Linked DNA regions of Homo sapiens: region 1 is linked to region 2. A link means that fine-mapping ties the variant in region 2 to the expression of a gene that starts in the linked region. Tissue or cell type: whole blood. Region 2 holds a variant in brackets; the other region holds the start of a gene. All regions are shown on one strand. Distances are between the middles of the regions.

The links. PIP is the estimated chance that this variant, and not a neighbour inherited with it, causes the effect.
Region 1: it holds the start of C2orf92, and the variant in region 2 is fine-mapped to the expression of C2orf92 in whole blood (INTERVAL, PIP above 0.99).

Annotation. Positions count from the first base shown.
Region 1 is chr2:97,666,382-97,674,487 of GRCh38, forward strand. It overlaps C2orf92 (chromosome 2 open reading frame 92), which reads left to right and starts at 3,332. Exons shown (of 8, transcript NM_001351368.2): 1 at 3,332-3,453; 2 at 8,075-8,106. The coding sequence starts at 3,408.
Region 2 is chr2:97,950,535-97,958,640 of GRCh38, forward strand. All of the region lies in intron 1 of TMEM131 (transmembrane protein 131), which reads right to left. Among named protein-coding and RNA genes, the nearest start is that of TMEM131, 41 kb to the right of the region's middle. RefSeq lists an enhancer at 7,301-7,380. The variant G/A (reference allele first, on the strand shown) is at 4,604.

The sequences.
Region 1 (8,106 bases), 280 kb before region 2:
AAAAAAGTAGCTGGGCGTGGTGGCATGCGTCTGTTGTCCCAGCTACTCAGGAGGCTGGGGTAGGAGAATCGCTTGAACCCAGGAGGCGGAGGTTGCAGTGAGCCGAGATCGCGCCACCAGCCTGGGCGACAGAGTGAGACTCCGTCTCAAAAAAAAAAAAAAAAAAAAAGATGGGGTTGAGATGGGCACGGTAGCTCATGCGTGTAATCCCAGTACTTGTGGAGGCTGAAGTGGGTGGATTGCTTGAGCCCAGGAATTTGAGACCAGCCTGGACAACATGGCAAAACCCTGTCTCTACAAAAAATACAAAAATTAGCCGGGCATGATGTTGTGCGCCTGTAGTGCCAGCTACTCCAGAGGCTGAGGTGGGAGGTTGGCTTGAGCCCGGGAGATGGAGGTTGCGGTGAGCCCAGATCGCACCATTGCACTCCAGCCTGGGTGACAGAGCCAGACTCTGTCTCAAAAAAAAAAAAAAAAAAAAAAGCAGTTGATTTTAAAATGGTGTCACCCTGTCTCTCCTAGGCTCCTGTTTTCCTAATAGCATGAACAGCCCCCCCGTCAGCTCCTACCCCTTGGTCTCTGACCTGTTCCTCCTCCGAGGTGACCTCTATCCTGAATTTTGAAAACATATTAGTATTGCCTGTTTCTGGACTTTGTGCAGATGAAGTCATTGGTATGTATTCATTTGCATCTAGTGTTTATACATTCATAAAATAGATCACTGTGTAGCCATTAAAAATAATGAGAGAGTGCTATATAATTTCATATGAAACATATCAGGACACATTGCTAAGTAAAAGCAAAGAGAAAGCAGACACCGAGTGTAGACTGTTATATGCATGAATGTCTCTGAACAGTATATGAGGCACCTTCAGGTCTCTTTTTTATTTTTTTTTTTTTTGAGACAATCTTTCTCTGTTGCCCAGGCTGGAGTGCAGTGGCGCAATCTGGGCTCACTGCAACCTCCACCTGTCGGGTTCAGGCAATTCTCCTGGCTCAGCCTCCCTAGTAGCTGGGATCACAGGTTCCCGCCACCATGCCCAGCTAAGTTTTTTTTTTTTTTTTTTTTGAGATGGAGTCTCACTCTGTCACCCAGGCTGGAGTGCAGTGGTGCGGTCTCGGCTCACTGCAAGCTCCGCCTCCCGGGTTCATGCCATTCTCCTGCCTCAGCCTCCCGAGTAGCTGGGACTACAGGCGCCCACCACCACGCCTGGCTAATTTTTTGTATTTTTAGTAGAGATGGGGTTTCACCGTGTTAGCCAGGATGATCTCGATCTCCTGACCTTGTGATCTGCCTGCCTCGGCCTCCCAAAATGCTGGGATTACAGGTGTGAGCCACCGTGCCTGGCCCCAAAGATGATTGTCTTATAAAAGCCTATGTAACCCTTTTCATTTTTTCTTTAAAAAATGTCTTCCTTTACCTCCTGGAACACATCCATACTTATTCCCATTGTAATGCCCGTTCCTGAATAAACATCATTGTTTTTTTAGAGAGGGAGAGAGAGTCCATTGGTGAGAGAGTCTCACCAATCTCCTGTCCCCAGGGCACTTCCACCCCTGGGTATTTGTACTGATCAACCAGGTTACGCTTTCAGCATTTGCAAACTCAGGATGGAGATTTTAGACCCTCTTCAACCTCCAGGTTTCCTCTTTGCAAAGGCCAGCAGCAGAAGCAAAAGAGATGGAGCCCGGGTTAGCATTTATTTTTCTATTTACCAGTCATTTGGAATTTGGACATTTTCTGTCCTGTGGTTGTGGTGAGGGTGTGGGTTTTGTGTTGTTTTATATATTCTTTGTTATTTTTTATTCTAGTTTTTGTTTTTGTTTTGGAAGGTATTTTAGAGAAATAAGATTTCTGTGGTTACCATGACCTGCTGTTACAGATTACATGGTACCCTCTCTTCATATGTTGAAGTCCTAGCCACCCCGCCGAACCTCAGAATGTGACTGTATTTGGAGATAGGGTCTTTACAGAGGAAATCAAGTTAAAATGAAGTCATTAGGGCAGGCCCTAATCCGATATGATCCTGTGTTCTTAGAAGAGGAAATGTGGACTCAGGTGTGTATGGAGGGAAGATGTCTTGCAAGCCCAAGGAGAAGATGGCCATCTGAGCCCACGTCCTGGAACAGAGACTTCCCTCACAGCCTCAGAAAGAACCAGCCCTGCTGACGTCTTGATCTCAGACCTCCAGCCTCCAGAACTGGGAGACGATTCAGTCAGCATCTACACAACACAGGGTTGAACTGTGCGGGTCCACTTCTATGCAGATTATTTTCTTTTTTCTTTTTTGAGACAGAGTCTCGCCCGGTTGCTCAGGCTGAAGTGTAGTGGTGTGATCTTGGCTTACTGCAGCTTCCACCTCCCAGGTGCAAGTGATTCTCCTGCCTCAGCTTCCCAAGTAGCTGGGACTATGGGTACTCGCCACCACACCTGGCTAATTTTTGTATTTTTAGTAGAGATGGGGTTTCACCATGTTGGTCAGGCTGGTCTTGAACTCCTGACCCCAAGTGATCTGCCTGCCTTGGCCTCCCAGATTGCTGGGATTACAGGTGTGAGCCACCGTGCCCGGCCCTATATAACTCTTTGTGCAAGTTTTTACCCCTAAAAGATATCTGCCATCTCAGCCATGGAACAGACACTGTAAGAACATGAAGGCTCAAGGGCAGGGCTGGCTACATAATTTGTGGGACCCATTACAAAATGAACATGGAGAAAAAACTAGAAAAAAGTGTAGTACAAGGTACTATAATAGATTTTTCCTTTGAAAACAGTTTAATACTTATAAAATGTAATAGAGGGAAATAGTGACACGTGAGTAACAAAATGGGCGTATCAATTGGTCTATGCTATTTTTGGTGTTATAATTTTACCTAATATAATAAGCAGCAACACTTTGTTAGTGAGACGGGCTTTCACCATGTTGGCCAGGCTGGTCTGGAACTCCTGACCTCAGGTGATCCGCCTGCCTCAGCCTTCCAAAGTGCTGGGATTACAGGTGTGAGCCTCTGCGCCCGGCTGTGATGTCTTGATTGATCATAGGATTTTTCTGGCTATTCTAGCTACTTCCAATTCGCTTCAGCCAATTTAGTTGAAGTTTTATCACTTGTGACTTCAGAGTCCTGGTTAATATCCTGTTGCCCTCAGGACATGCAGGATGGAGGAAGGCACCAGGGAGCCGAGGGAAGTGAGCAGAGAGGCAGTCACTTCAGGGCCACCAGCATAGCCCCCGTCACTGTCCACAGACACAGGCCCTTCCCCTTCTCATGGTTGAGCAGGCTCCACCTCACTTCCGTGTATGACTTCATAGACCGTTAGGTTCCGTGGTACCCTGGAGTCCACAGCTGCTGAATCTGAAGGGCCATCAGAAGACTGGCTTCTCCATGATGGTTTATGGACTAAGGCAAAGATGAGCAGAGCCATGGCCCTCTTCTTTGTTCTCTGCTGGATCCAAGGTATATTGCTGTGGCAGCTGGAGAGAAACATGGGCCTCACTTCAAGCCTAAGTGGGGCAGAGGAGGGCGTTCCCTCCCACAGTGTGGGGAACACAGATGCTTTACCTACTCTACCTTCTATACCTCCCCAAATCTGCCATTCAGGGTTTATTACTTGGGGGAAGGGAGTAACTGAAAACATTTTCCTAACTTTGAAGCTTTCTCAAAATTCAGAGCTCTATAGGAGGGTGGCATACATGCGTATTTTAACTTTTCACTGTAAGCATTTCCAAACATATGCAAAAGTAGAAAGATTAGTATAAAGAACCACCATATGCTAACTAACCCTCCTGATTTTATCTATATATATGCACTATTTAAAAAATAACAGGGTTAGGCCGGGTACAGTGGCTCACTCTTGTAACTCCAGCACTTTAGGAGGCCAAGGCAGGAGGATTCCTTGAGCTCAGGAGTTTGTGACAGGCCTAGGCAACATCATGAGAGCCTGTCTGTATAAAAAATTTTAAAATTAGCCATGCATGGTGATGCGTGCGTGTGGTCCCAGCTACTAGGGAGGCTGAGGTGGGATGATCACTTGAGCCCAAAAAGTCGAGGCTGCAGTAAGCCGTGATCACACCACTGCACTCAAGCTTGGGCAACAGAGTGGGATCCTGTCTCAAAAAAAAAAAATTAGTAATAACTTTATAGGATATAATATATAATAAAATTCACCCTTTATTTTATTTTTCTATTTATTGTTATTATTTTTGAGATAGGTTCTCCCTCTGTCACCCAGAGCTGGAGTGCGGTGGCATAATCACAGCTAATTGCAGCCTCAACATTCCAGGCCCAAGGATCCTCCCTTCAGCCTTCCAGGTAGCTGGGACCACAGGCATGTACCACCACACCCAGCTAATTTTTTAAATTTCTGTAGAAATAGGGATCTCACTATGTTGCCCAGGCTGGTCTCAAACTCCTGGGCTCAAGTGATCCTCCTACCTTGGCCTCCCAAAGTGCTGGAATTACAGGCATGAACCACTATGTCTGGCCAAATTTACCCTTTACAAAGTATATAATTCAGTGGTTTTTAGTATACTCATAGAGTTGTGAAGCATCACTATCTAATTTTATTTAATTTTTAATTTTTTAATTTTTTGAGATGGAGTGTCGCTCTCTCACCCAGGCTGGAGTGCAGTGGCGCTATCTTGGCTCACTGCAACATCTGCTTCCCAGGTTCAAGTGATTATCCTGCCTCAGCCTCCCAAGTTGCTGGGATTACAGGCGTGTGCCACCACGCCTGGCTAATTTACTAAACTAATAAATTACTAAATTAGTAAGTTACTAGTAAATTAGTAATTACTAAAATATAATTTTTAGTAGAGATGGGATTTCATCATGTTGGCCAGGCTGGTCATGAACTCCTGACCTCAATGGATCCTCCTGCCTCAGCTTCCTGAGTAGCTGGGACCACAGGTGCACACCACCACGCCCAGGTAATTAATTTTTATTTTTTGTAGAGTCGGGGGTCTCCCTATGTTTCCCAGGCTGGCCTCGAACTCCTGACCTCAAGTGATCCTCCCACCTCAGCCTCCCCGAGTGCTGGGATTAAAGACGTGAGCCACGGCACCTGGCCTGAATTTTCCTCAAATTCAAAAAATCCTGATGAAGGTTTGGCTAAAATCTTTGGTGAGTTACCCCACTCCCTGTGGAACCTCAGGCTGGATTTGAAGAGTTGCGTGCATGGTCCTCATTGTCTCCCAGGTAACCTGTTCCCGCTGCTGTGAAGGGAAGGCAGGTGCTCTTCCTTGAGGCTAGAATCTGTCTACGTGTCACAGTCTCAGGAAATTAAGCAAAACAGATGATAAACACCTCAAAAGGACCCTACTGAGCATCAGTGGAGCAGAGCAGGGCCATGTGGGACTGCGGCGTCAGATGCCACCTCACACTAGCTGTGACACACCTGCCTCGCCAGTTTCTGCTCTGAGGCCCCAAAGCCGAGCTGAACCTCCTCCAGGGGTTCTCAGCCCTAACTGAGCATGAAAACCCCTGGGGCAATCCTCTTTTTAACAATTGAGACATTCCACACACACCCCACATCAGATTTTGGGGTGTGGGGATAGACCTTCACATTTGTAGTTTTCTAACCCTCCAGGGGACACTAGGCTGAGACTCATTGGTCTCCACTCTGAACCTTCCACTGAACATGTGAGAAAAACTAAGGCCCAGGGAAGTCTTTAGCAGAGAGCTGAGACGGAGAAAAGGGTTCTGAACCACAGCTGTCTGCTGAAGGAAGCTGTCCAAAGGCCAGTGAAGTCTCTCCTGAGGGTGCCTGGGCTGTGCATCAGGAGTGAAGGTTGAGGGTCACCTTAGGTGTGAGAAGGAGCAACTGGGAGAGTGGCGCTGATGCTTCCCCCCGGGTTAGGAGGCATTTGGATCACAGAGCGATGCCTGTTCATTCCTGCTTGCAAGGGAGCAGATCTCTCGACACCCGATGGGCCTCTATTCCGTTCCGGCAGCTGTCCGTGTCAGGAGCGCTGGGCTTGCTCCTCCCCACGGGAGCCATCACAGAGGCCTCGGGCAGTCTGCATAGACAACTGCCTGGCAGGTGACCAGGAGGGGATGCATGAGCAGATGCAGGTAGCACTCGCAGTCCCCCTAGCTGTGCCCTCAGCACCTGCTGTCTAGGAGGCAGAAGCCTTGTTCTCGGCCTTGCAGGTGACCCCAGTGTCTCTGAATTCGGCCCCATATGTGTAGGAGGGGAGTGATTGCATCTGAAGATGGGAGTCTGGTTGGGGGTTTGGGAAGCTCCCATCACCCCTCAAGAGTCCACTGACCAGCCCAGCTCACACCAGGTGGGCCTTGGCACTGGAGGCCACGGCTCAACTCTGCAGTTCCCTCTGGGCAGCATTTCCAGGGACTCGTAGGTCAGCATGGTCATCAAGGACAGGTGGTGAGAGCAGCTCCTCATTGTCCTGGTGACCCCGATGGTTCATTTTCTGGTGTCTCTGTGGTGAGCTCCTGTTACATCAAGCGAGTGGAAACCACCGAGGACCAACAGCCCTGGAAATGCACTGAGAATGCAGGATGAGTGGGCTTTGTGAGGACTGTTTTCTGTGACTTAGCAAGGAAAGCCTGGAAGGGAAAGTAAAACTGCTTCTTCCCAGGGAAGCCAGAAACCTGAGAACTTAAAAGGGAAGGAGAACTTAATATATTTCAAAAATGTAACCCTTGTGAATTAGCAACAGCTTTATAAACAAAGAGATTTCCGAGCTTATAGAATCTATTCTGCTTTGTTTCTGCCCCCATGGCTCCTACCCCTGTTTTTGTGGGTACAATTTTCATATAGAACATTTTTACACAAGCTTCAAAACTCTCTGAGGACAGCTTTCCCCTTTGTGTCTGTCGGGTCCCAGGCAGTCACATCCCAGGAAGTGCTGGGGTTGGGCTCCTTGCTCCACATCCTTCTTCAGTGGCACGAAGCGTGGGGTGGAGTGTGTGAGTCATGTGTGATCTTGGTGTGGGCTATGGCTGGTCTGCAGCACCCCTTCAATGACTGCTTCAAGGGCTTTTCATGATGCTTGTAGCTCATGAGCTAGTGTTTCCTAGATGCTGTTTCCAGGTGTCTTGCATGTCACACACTGGCCTACCAGGGCTGGAGTGAGATCATGAGCGCCAGATTGTTGGTGAAGGAAGTTGACAGAGACATCGAATGTCGGTGAACAGGAGTGACCTTGGGTCTCAATAAATACTGTGGTCAACTGAATCCAGAACCCACCCTTACCAGCAGGGCCCACTTCTTCCCCAGCAGGCCGAGCTCTTCCCCTCCTGTCTTCCCTGGCCCTTGCTTTGTAGCTCTGTGTGGCTGTGTCATGTCTGGTTGTATCTGTATATACTTCTGCCTCTCCCGCTATCTAGATGGCTCGGGGAGGCACACCACACACCAGGTCACCTTCCTCTCTGAACCCCCAGCACCTCATACTGTTTCTGTGCAGAGATAAGGCTGGGTGAAAGCTTGTGTGAATGATCTGAAGTCTTCTACTCTAGGCCAGTCTCCAGGAGCATTATGATCTTTAGGAGGGTGGGCTTGGTTCCTCTGTACAATAATGGGTCATAAAACTGAGTGGTCAAGATCATCCCGGTGAGGGCAGTCCGTGTGTTGCCATAGTTGCTGTACCGGTTAAGAATGCACCTGGCTGCAATTTCCTGAAAACCTGACGTATAGTGGCTTAAACAAAGAGTGGTTTATTTTCCTTCTGTCATAGCAATCTGGGGGAGGCCACTGTGGCTTTGGCGCAGGAGGTCGGGAAAGGCCCGCTTCTCTGATATCATTGGGGGCCTCCCCAGTGCTTGTGTGGCAGAATGACAAGAGGAAGAAGAAGGAGAATTATGGCACTGAGTATCATGAGATTTGGGGTCATATATCTTTAGTGGGCGGTGTTTGCTGCCCCAAATGTCTCATGCCATTAAAATGTTCTGGAAATGATTTAGGTAGTTGGAGTTTCCTTCCCAAAGACAAGGCATTTACAGCATGATGTCCAATATCCATTGAGTTTGTGTCATGCATTCATTGTATTCATAGTCTGCTTTAGGTACTTAGCAAAATATTGCTGATATTAACATGCCTTTGTTTGCTTCACTGGAGATGAAATTGTGCTCCAAGTGTTTTCCAAGGTT
Region 2 (8,106 bases):
TCTGTGGCAAAGAGCATCAGGACAGGGTCTCTTTACCGGATATTCCCCTTCAGGCAGCAACAGACTGGGAGAGCAGTTAACATCACTGACTTAGAAATAATTTTTTTTTTTTAATTACGGGTTTCTCAGAAATCATGTAGAAGTTGAATGAGTTCAGAGCCAGAACTAGGGCATGGGTCTGCTGATTCCAAGACTCCAATATCTACCACATCTGCATTCTGGTTTATCAGCTCAAGATTCCAGTCTAGTTTCTCAACACTGTGGAATGAAAAACTGCTCAGCCATCAACTTGTAACCAAAGATGACTAATATTTTAGCCAATAAGGATTAAAAGGAGGAAAACGAGCTTAGTTTCCAGGTACTAATATCCTTTTAATAGCCTAAATTTGCAGTAAAGAAAGTACAATAAGCTGGAAATAGCCAACAAACCAAGAGGAACTCATTTCCTACAGAACACATGCACTGTTAATTTTAGGGATTTACCAGAGTTGCACATTTTAAAGTTAAAATGATAGAACCAGAGAACAGAAGCAGAGAGCAGAATAAGTCAACAGTTCACTGATGGTGCAGACTCACATTCAGCACAACCAGACATATTGTAACAGGAAAAAAAAAATCCCTTTAAGTGAAAATAAGGATTTAAGGAAGTTAGAAAAACATGGAGTCAGTTAGGTTTGGTGTGTAGGTTCTGGTCTACTTTTGTAGTCTGTAGTTCCAAAGACAATTGAGTTTTGTAAGCCCCTGTGATGGTAATATGTGTCTGCTTCATTCTTCTAGCTCTGCTGGAGCTCCCACTGGATAGCTTCTGGTGCCACACAGCGGGGTGGAAGGCACATCCTCAGGCTGCACAGTATGATTAGGCCAGTGGGTAGGGGACTGCCAGACCTGAGGGGTGAATAAGAGCATTTCCCGTGGCTTGTTCTACAGTCACCTCACTGGTAAGCTTCTCACTCTATCTCTGCTGGGCCACTGTTGTGGGCAGACTAGGCCTGCTACTGCCACTGGGTAAAATGTCTCATTGGCAAGTCCCTCCTGGGCTTCCCTTTTCCTGATCCTTTGGCCAGAGAGGACAGGGTTTTCTGTTTTTTGTTTTTGTTGCTGTTTATGCCTGTTGGCAATTTCAAGTTGTACTCCACTCCAGTCTGGGATACACGGGGGAAAAACACAAACACGCATACACACCACACCGCCCCAACACACATGCATGGAAATTACTCCAGTCCAGTGTGTTTCAAGTCCTAACGTCCCCTAGCCAGTCCACCCGCTTTCCACCTTTTAGAGTCCTTTAATACCATACAGGATCAGTGAACTTGAAGACAGATCTAAAGAAGTGTTCAATTTCGGCCAGGCGCAGTGGCTCACACCTGTAATCCCAGCATTATGGGAGGCCAAGGCGGGCAGATCACGAGATCAGGAGTTCAAGACCAGCCTGACCAACATGGTGAAACCCCATCTCTACTAAAAATACAAAAATTAGCCAGGTGTGGTGGCGCACGCCTGTAATCCCAGCTACTTGGGAGACTGAGGCAGGAGAATCGCTTGAACCCGGGAGGCGGAGGGTGCAGTGAGCCAAGATCACGCCACTGCACTCCAGCCTGGGTGACAGAGCGAGACTCCATCTCCAAAAAAAAAAAAAAGAATTGTTCAGTCTGAACAGCTGCAGAAAAAGTAGGCTGAAACAAAAAAATGAACAAAGCCTCAGGGACCTCCAGGGCAATAATGAAAAATCTAACATTAGGAGAGGAGAAAAAATGTGACGCTGAGGGAGGATTTGAAAAATTAATACAGGAAAACTTCCCAAATTTGGTGAAAGACATAAACTTACAGAGCGAATTCCAGATAGGATAAACCCAAAGAAATTCATATCAAGACACATCACAAACTTCTGAAAACTAAAGACAAAAAGTCTTAAAAGGAACCAAGAAAAATGACACATTACCTATACTAGAACACCAATTCGAATTGGTGTTCAGTCTGAAACCATGAAAGTGCAAAAGGAGTGGCATATTTCTTAAATGCTGAAATATAAGAACTGAAACATAAGTACTGTCAATTGTGTGGGCCCAGCACGGTAGCTCATGCCTACAACCCCAGCACTTTGGGAGGCCGAGGCGGGAGGGCCACTTGAGCCCAGGAGCTCGAGACCAGCCTGGGCAACACAGTGAGACTACATCACTACAAAAAAATTTTAAAAATTAGCTGGGCATGGTGCTGTGCATATGTAGTTCCAGCTACTCAGGAGGCTGAGGTGGGAGGATTGCTTGAGCCCAGGAGGTCAAGCTGCAGTGAGCCATGATTGTGCCACTCACTGTACTCCTACCTGGGTGACAGAGTGAAACCCTGTCTCATTAAAACAAAAACAAAACAAACAAAAAACAACAGAAAACTGTTAATTATGAATGCTATAACCAGCAAAGCTATCCTTCAAAAAAGAAGGTAACATAAAGGTATTAGCAAATTAAAAATTTTGTCACTACCAAGCCTACGCTTAAAGAAGGTCTAAAGGAGTATCTTCAAAAAGAAAGAAAATAATAAAAGGCAGCTTGGAATTTCATAAAGGAAACAAGAGCAAAGGAAGGGGTAAATATAAGAGACCATCCTTTTCCATCAAGTTTCTTAAATCATACTGACGGTTAAAACAAACTTAACATCTGCTGTGCTCAATGTATGGAAATGAAATAACTTCAGAAAAGTGCATTTTAAAAAACAGAGAAGGCAAAGAGACCTTAATGAAAGTCAGACAAAACCCAACTACATACCGTCTAATAAAACTTATTTCAAACACATCAGTTTTACATAAAAGGTCGTTAAAAGATATATCATGCTAACATTATTTTTTAAAAACAGGTATGGCTATGTTAACACAGATAAGGTAGATTTCAGAGGAAAGAAAATTACTAGAGACAAAGACATTACATAACGATACTTTAAAAATCAATCCATCAATAAAAAAATACTGCTCCTAAAAGTAAATGCACCAAACAACAGAGTTGCAAAATAATAAAACAAAAACTGATAAAGCTAAATTACAGGTGGAGATTTCAACACTTCACTGTCAGCAACTGGTAGAACTAAAAGAAAATTAGCAAAGACAGAAAAGAACTGAACAACAATCAACCAACAGGATCTAAAAGACATCTCCAGAACACTCCACCCTACAACAGAATATTCATTCCCTTTAAGCTACCGTGGACCATGCACCAGGACAGACCATACCCTGGGTCATAAAACAAACCCCAACTATTTTAAAATAATTAAAATTATTCCATTTTCCAACTATAATGCTGGTGAACCTTAAGTTCATATGATTTCCAATCACAATGTAATCAGACTAGAAATCAGTAACAGAAACATAACACAAAAATCTTCAAACACTTCTGTATACCACATGTCTAAACAAATCATTGGCCAAAAAGCAATAGAACAGCAAAAAATACATATACGTAAATAAAAATAAAAACGCAAAATATCAAAAAACAGTTCTGACCGAAACACTTATGTCACAGTGACGCTTATATTAGAAAAGAGGAAATGGTCTCACATTAATAATCTCTGTCCCCTACTTTAAGAAACTAGAAAAAGTAGAGCAAAATAAATTCAAAGCAAGTAGAATGAAAATTATAAAAACAAGAGCAGAAACCAATGAAATTGAAAACAGGAAAATAACAACAACAAAAATCAATGAAATCAAATACTGGTTCTCTGAAAAATAATCAAAACTGAAAAGGCTCTAGCAAGACTGACAAAAAGGTGAAGACACAAAGCACAACCATCAGGAATGAAACAAGGGATAGCTTCATACTATAGCCATTAGAAGATTACTAAGGGCATAGAATGAATAACTTTATGCTCATAAATTTGACAACTTTGAAAATACGGACCAATTCCTCAAAAACCACAAACTACCAAAGCTCAACCAAGATGAAGGAAATGGCCTGCATATACCCATAACCATTAAAGACAGTGAATTTGTGAAGAGAAAGATCTCAGCCGGGCGCAGTGGCTCACGCCTGTAATCCCAGCACTTTGGGAGGCCAAGGCGGGTGGATCACCTGAGGTCAGGAGTTCGAGACCAGCCTTACCAACATGGTGAAAACCCATCTCTACTAAAAATACAAAAAATTAGCTGGGCGTGGTGGCGTGCGCCTGTAGTTCCAGCTACTCAGGAGGCTGAGGTAGGAGAATTGCTTGAACCCGGGAGGCAGAGGTTGCAGTCAGCTGAGATCACGGCATTGCACTTCAGCCTGGGAGACAAGAGTGAAACTCCATCTCAAAAAAAAAAAAAAAAAAAAAAACTAAAAAAGAGAAAGATCTCCAAAAAAGAAATTCCCAGGCCAAAATGGCTTTACTGGAAAATTTTACCAAACATTTTAAAAAGAATTAGGGCCAATTTTACATAATCTAGTTTAAAAAAACAAAGAACATTTCCCAACTCATCTAATGAAGCTAGTGTATTACTCTTGACATCAAAGCTAGACAAAACCATTGCAAAATTTTTTTAAAACTATAGACCACTATTCCTTATTAAGTTAGATGCAAAAACCCTCAAACAAATACCAGCAAACTGAATCTAGTAATATAGAAAAAGGACTACACACCATAA[G/A]CAGAATTTATCCGAAATATGCAAGACTGAATCAACATTTGAAAAAAAATTAATGGAATCAAATATACTAATAAATAACAAAATCATATGATCATGTCAATTGATGCAAAAAAAATCATTTGACAAAATCCAACATCTCATCATGATACAAATTCTCACTAAAATAGGAACAAACTGGAACTTCCTTTACTTGACAAAGAGCATCTGCAAAAATCTATACCTTAATGGTGAAAGAATGGTTTTCCCCTAAGACTGGGAAAAGGTGATCCACAACTTTTTTTCAGCACAGTACTAGAAATTCTAAGATACTGCAATAAGGCAAGGAAAATAAAATGCATACAGATCAGGAAGGAAGAATAAAATTGTCCGTATTGGCAAATGATACGATCGTTTACATGGAAAATCCAAAGGAACCTGTGAAAATCATCTAAAACTTCTAGAATAAGTAAGTTCAGCAAGGAAGCAGGATATAAGATTAACACACAAAAATCAATAACATTTCTATATACTAACAATGAACATATGGAAACCAAAAAGTTAAAAACAAGACACTATATACTAACAATGAACATATGGAAACCAAAAAATAAAAAACAAAACACCATTTACAATCACTCTGGAAAGTGAAATACTTGCAATCACTCCGGAAAGTGAAAGCTATGTACAGGATCTATATACTAAAAAATTTTAAATGCTGATTAAAAAAAGAAAACCTAAATAAATGAACATATATAATAGAGTACTTAACACAGGAAAAATGTCAATTCTCCCCAAATTAATATACAGGTTTAATGCAATTCCTATCAATATCTCAGCAACATATTTCATACACACAAACTAGCTTATTCTAAAATTTGCATGCAAAGGTACACACCCTAAAATAGTCAAAACAATCTTGAGAAATAAGGAAAAAGTGACAGAAATTACTTTCCCCAATATTAAGGTAGAGTAAGAGTAAGGGTAGTATTATTCTAGTAATAGAGTACCTGAGAGAGTGTGACATTGCCAAAATGACATGCACAGACTAATGGAATAGAACAGATGACCCAGAAAGAGAGCCACACAAATATGCCCAATTGATTTTGATACAAGTATGAAAATAATCCACTGGAGGAATTTTTTCAATTTTCAATAAATGGTGCTAGAGCAACTGGACATCCACAAGCCAAAAAGTGCCAAATATTTTTGTATCTCGGAACCAACTTGCTAAATGGAAATGTGAAATAGTTACAATGGCCCATCAGATAATTTCTTGATTATACAGAGAACAATTATATTTTTACTCCATTCTTTAACTCATGTGGTATTGATCTCCTATTACTTTGATCAAAGTTTCAGGGTACAAATTAAAATTTCGATTTTTTTTCAAGGAAAGTTTATAAATAACAGGTCATACTCCAAAGTGGTAAAAGAAAAAAAAGACTTAAAGTTTGGAAAATTTTCTTGGGCATAGTAGTAACTGGGGTAAAAAGAGAAAAATTTATGTCAAAGTGAGAATGTGTTATATATATTTAAAAATATTTCTCTTTTTTCATTAAGTAGTGTAAACTAGATTTTTTTTTTACTACTAAACATGACTTTTGTAAATACATGGTCCAAAAATTTTATTCTCTATTAGTCTTTAATAGTTTATTCTCCATCTCTGACATAAATTTTAAGTTAAAAAATTATCCAACAGCGGCTGGGCACGGTGGCTCACGGCTGTAATCCCAGCAGTTTGGGAGGCCGAGGCAGGCAATCACCTGAGGTCAGGAGTTTGAGACCAGCCTGGCCAACATGGTGAAACCCCATCTGTACTAAAAATACAAAAATTAGCCGGTGTGGTGGCATGTGCCTGTAGTCCCAGCTATTCAGGAGGCAGAGGCAGGAGAATAGCTTGAACCCGGGAGGCGGAGGTTGCAGTAAGCCGAGATCGCGCCACTGCACTCCAGGCTGGGCGACAGCGTGAGACTCCGTCTCAAAAAAAAAAAAAAAAGTTATCCTACAGCAATAATTTTTAAAATGAAGTTAAATGTTTGAATAAATGTGAGACTTTGTTCACATTTATTCCAAAAGGAAAAAAATTGAAAGACACCAAATTTGGCAACTTCTAAGCACAATAATGTTTACATAAAAACAAAAAGCAAAGAAACAAAAATTTTGTTGTGCCTGGTACTTAATGATTTACATAAACTAAATTTTAGCATTACTATGAATTTTAGTTTATTATTTTTAAAATTTATTTAGTCACATGTTTTACTTTTGACTACATACATATGAAACAACATTATATATTTTATTTTTCCCCCTCTAGTAACCAGGCACAAATTTTAATGTACTTCTAGTCTGTCCTGGCTTGCTTTGAAATTCAAGGGATACTATTTTGGTGCTGACCACTGACTATAAACAGAAAGTACCAGCTAACTCATAGGATGGGGAGAGGCAAGGTTATTTCATGATCTCATTGTGGGATGAGGCAAACCTAAACTTAAAAAAAGAAACAAGTTACCTCTTCAAGACATTAGTTTAAAAAAAAAAATGTGCTCAAGTGTTAGAACTTCTATTCCAAAGGACAAAAGTTTCCTGTTTTGAAAACATGCGGGAAAGCTTATACCTGCTGGCATGGCTGCCAAGTATGTTGACAAATAATGAAAGTTTCAAAACTAGGCCTCTGAAATACAATTAGCTAATGTCATAGTAGGTGCCTTGATTATTCCAAAAAAAAAAAGATAACTTTTAACTAAAAGCTACTGCACATAACCACAGTGCTAACGGCTAAGGCTGGACCTCCTCAAGGAACTCATACACTGAGATGAGACACAGACGAATAAATCAAGTACTGGGTGCTCCAGGTGCACTGAAACCACCAAATTCAGCCACAAGGGTTTATGGAGTGGTTACGTCTGAAGGAAGAGTCAGGTGAACACGGAGGTTAAGGTAGGGCATTCCTACCAGAAAGCACAACAGTGCAAAGGAATTTGAGGTATGAAAAATCATGGTTCTTTAAGAAGATAAGTCATTTCATAGGTCTGAAATCTGGGGAGCATTGAAGAGAATTAAGAAGAGGCTGGAGAGGGGGGCAGAAGCTGAGCCACCATCCACACCAAACCCTGGAAGTTGTGTGCTATTTTTCCCATTTTCCAGTAATTTGCCCAAGGTCAAACTTCTGGCAAGTGGCAGAGATGAGAGGACAGATCAGGTCTGCATCTCTACAAAGCTCAAGCTCAGGCTGTCTCTCAACGACCTTCCAATACTTAGAATAATCTCCCAACAGGTGCAGCTTCCTGAAGACAGAGAAAGCCCATGGTGAAGTAGAACAGTAACAAACCCTGAAACCAATCATTAAAGTAGCTGTTCTCAAAGTGGAGTTCTTGGACCACTGCATTAAAATGCCTTGGTACTCAGCAAAAGGTAGATTCTGGGCCTACATTCAGACATACTGAATCGCATTCTCTGAGACTGAGCCTGGGAGTCTGCATTTTATGATACCCACAAGCTTTGAAGGCTGGTGATTTAAATGCCTG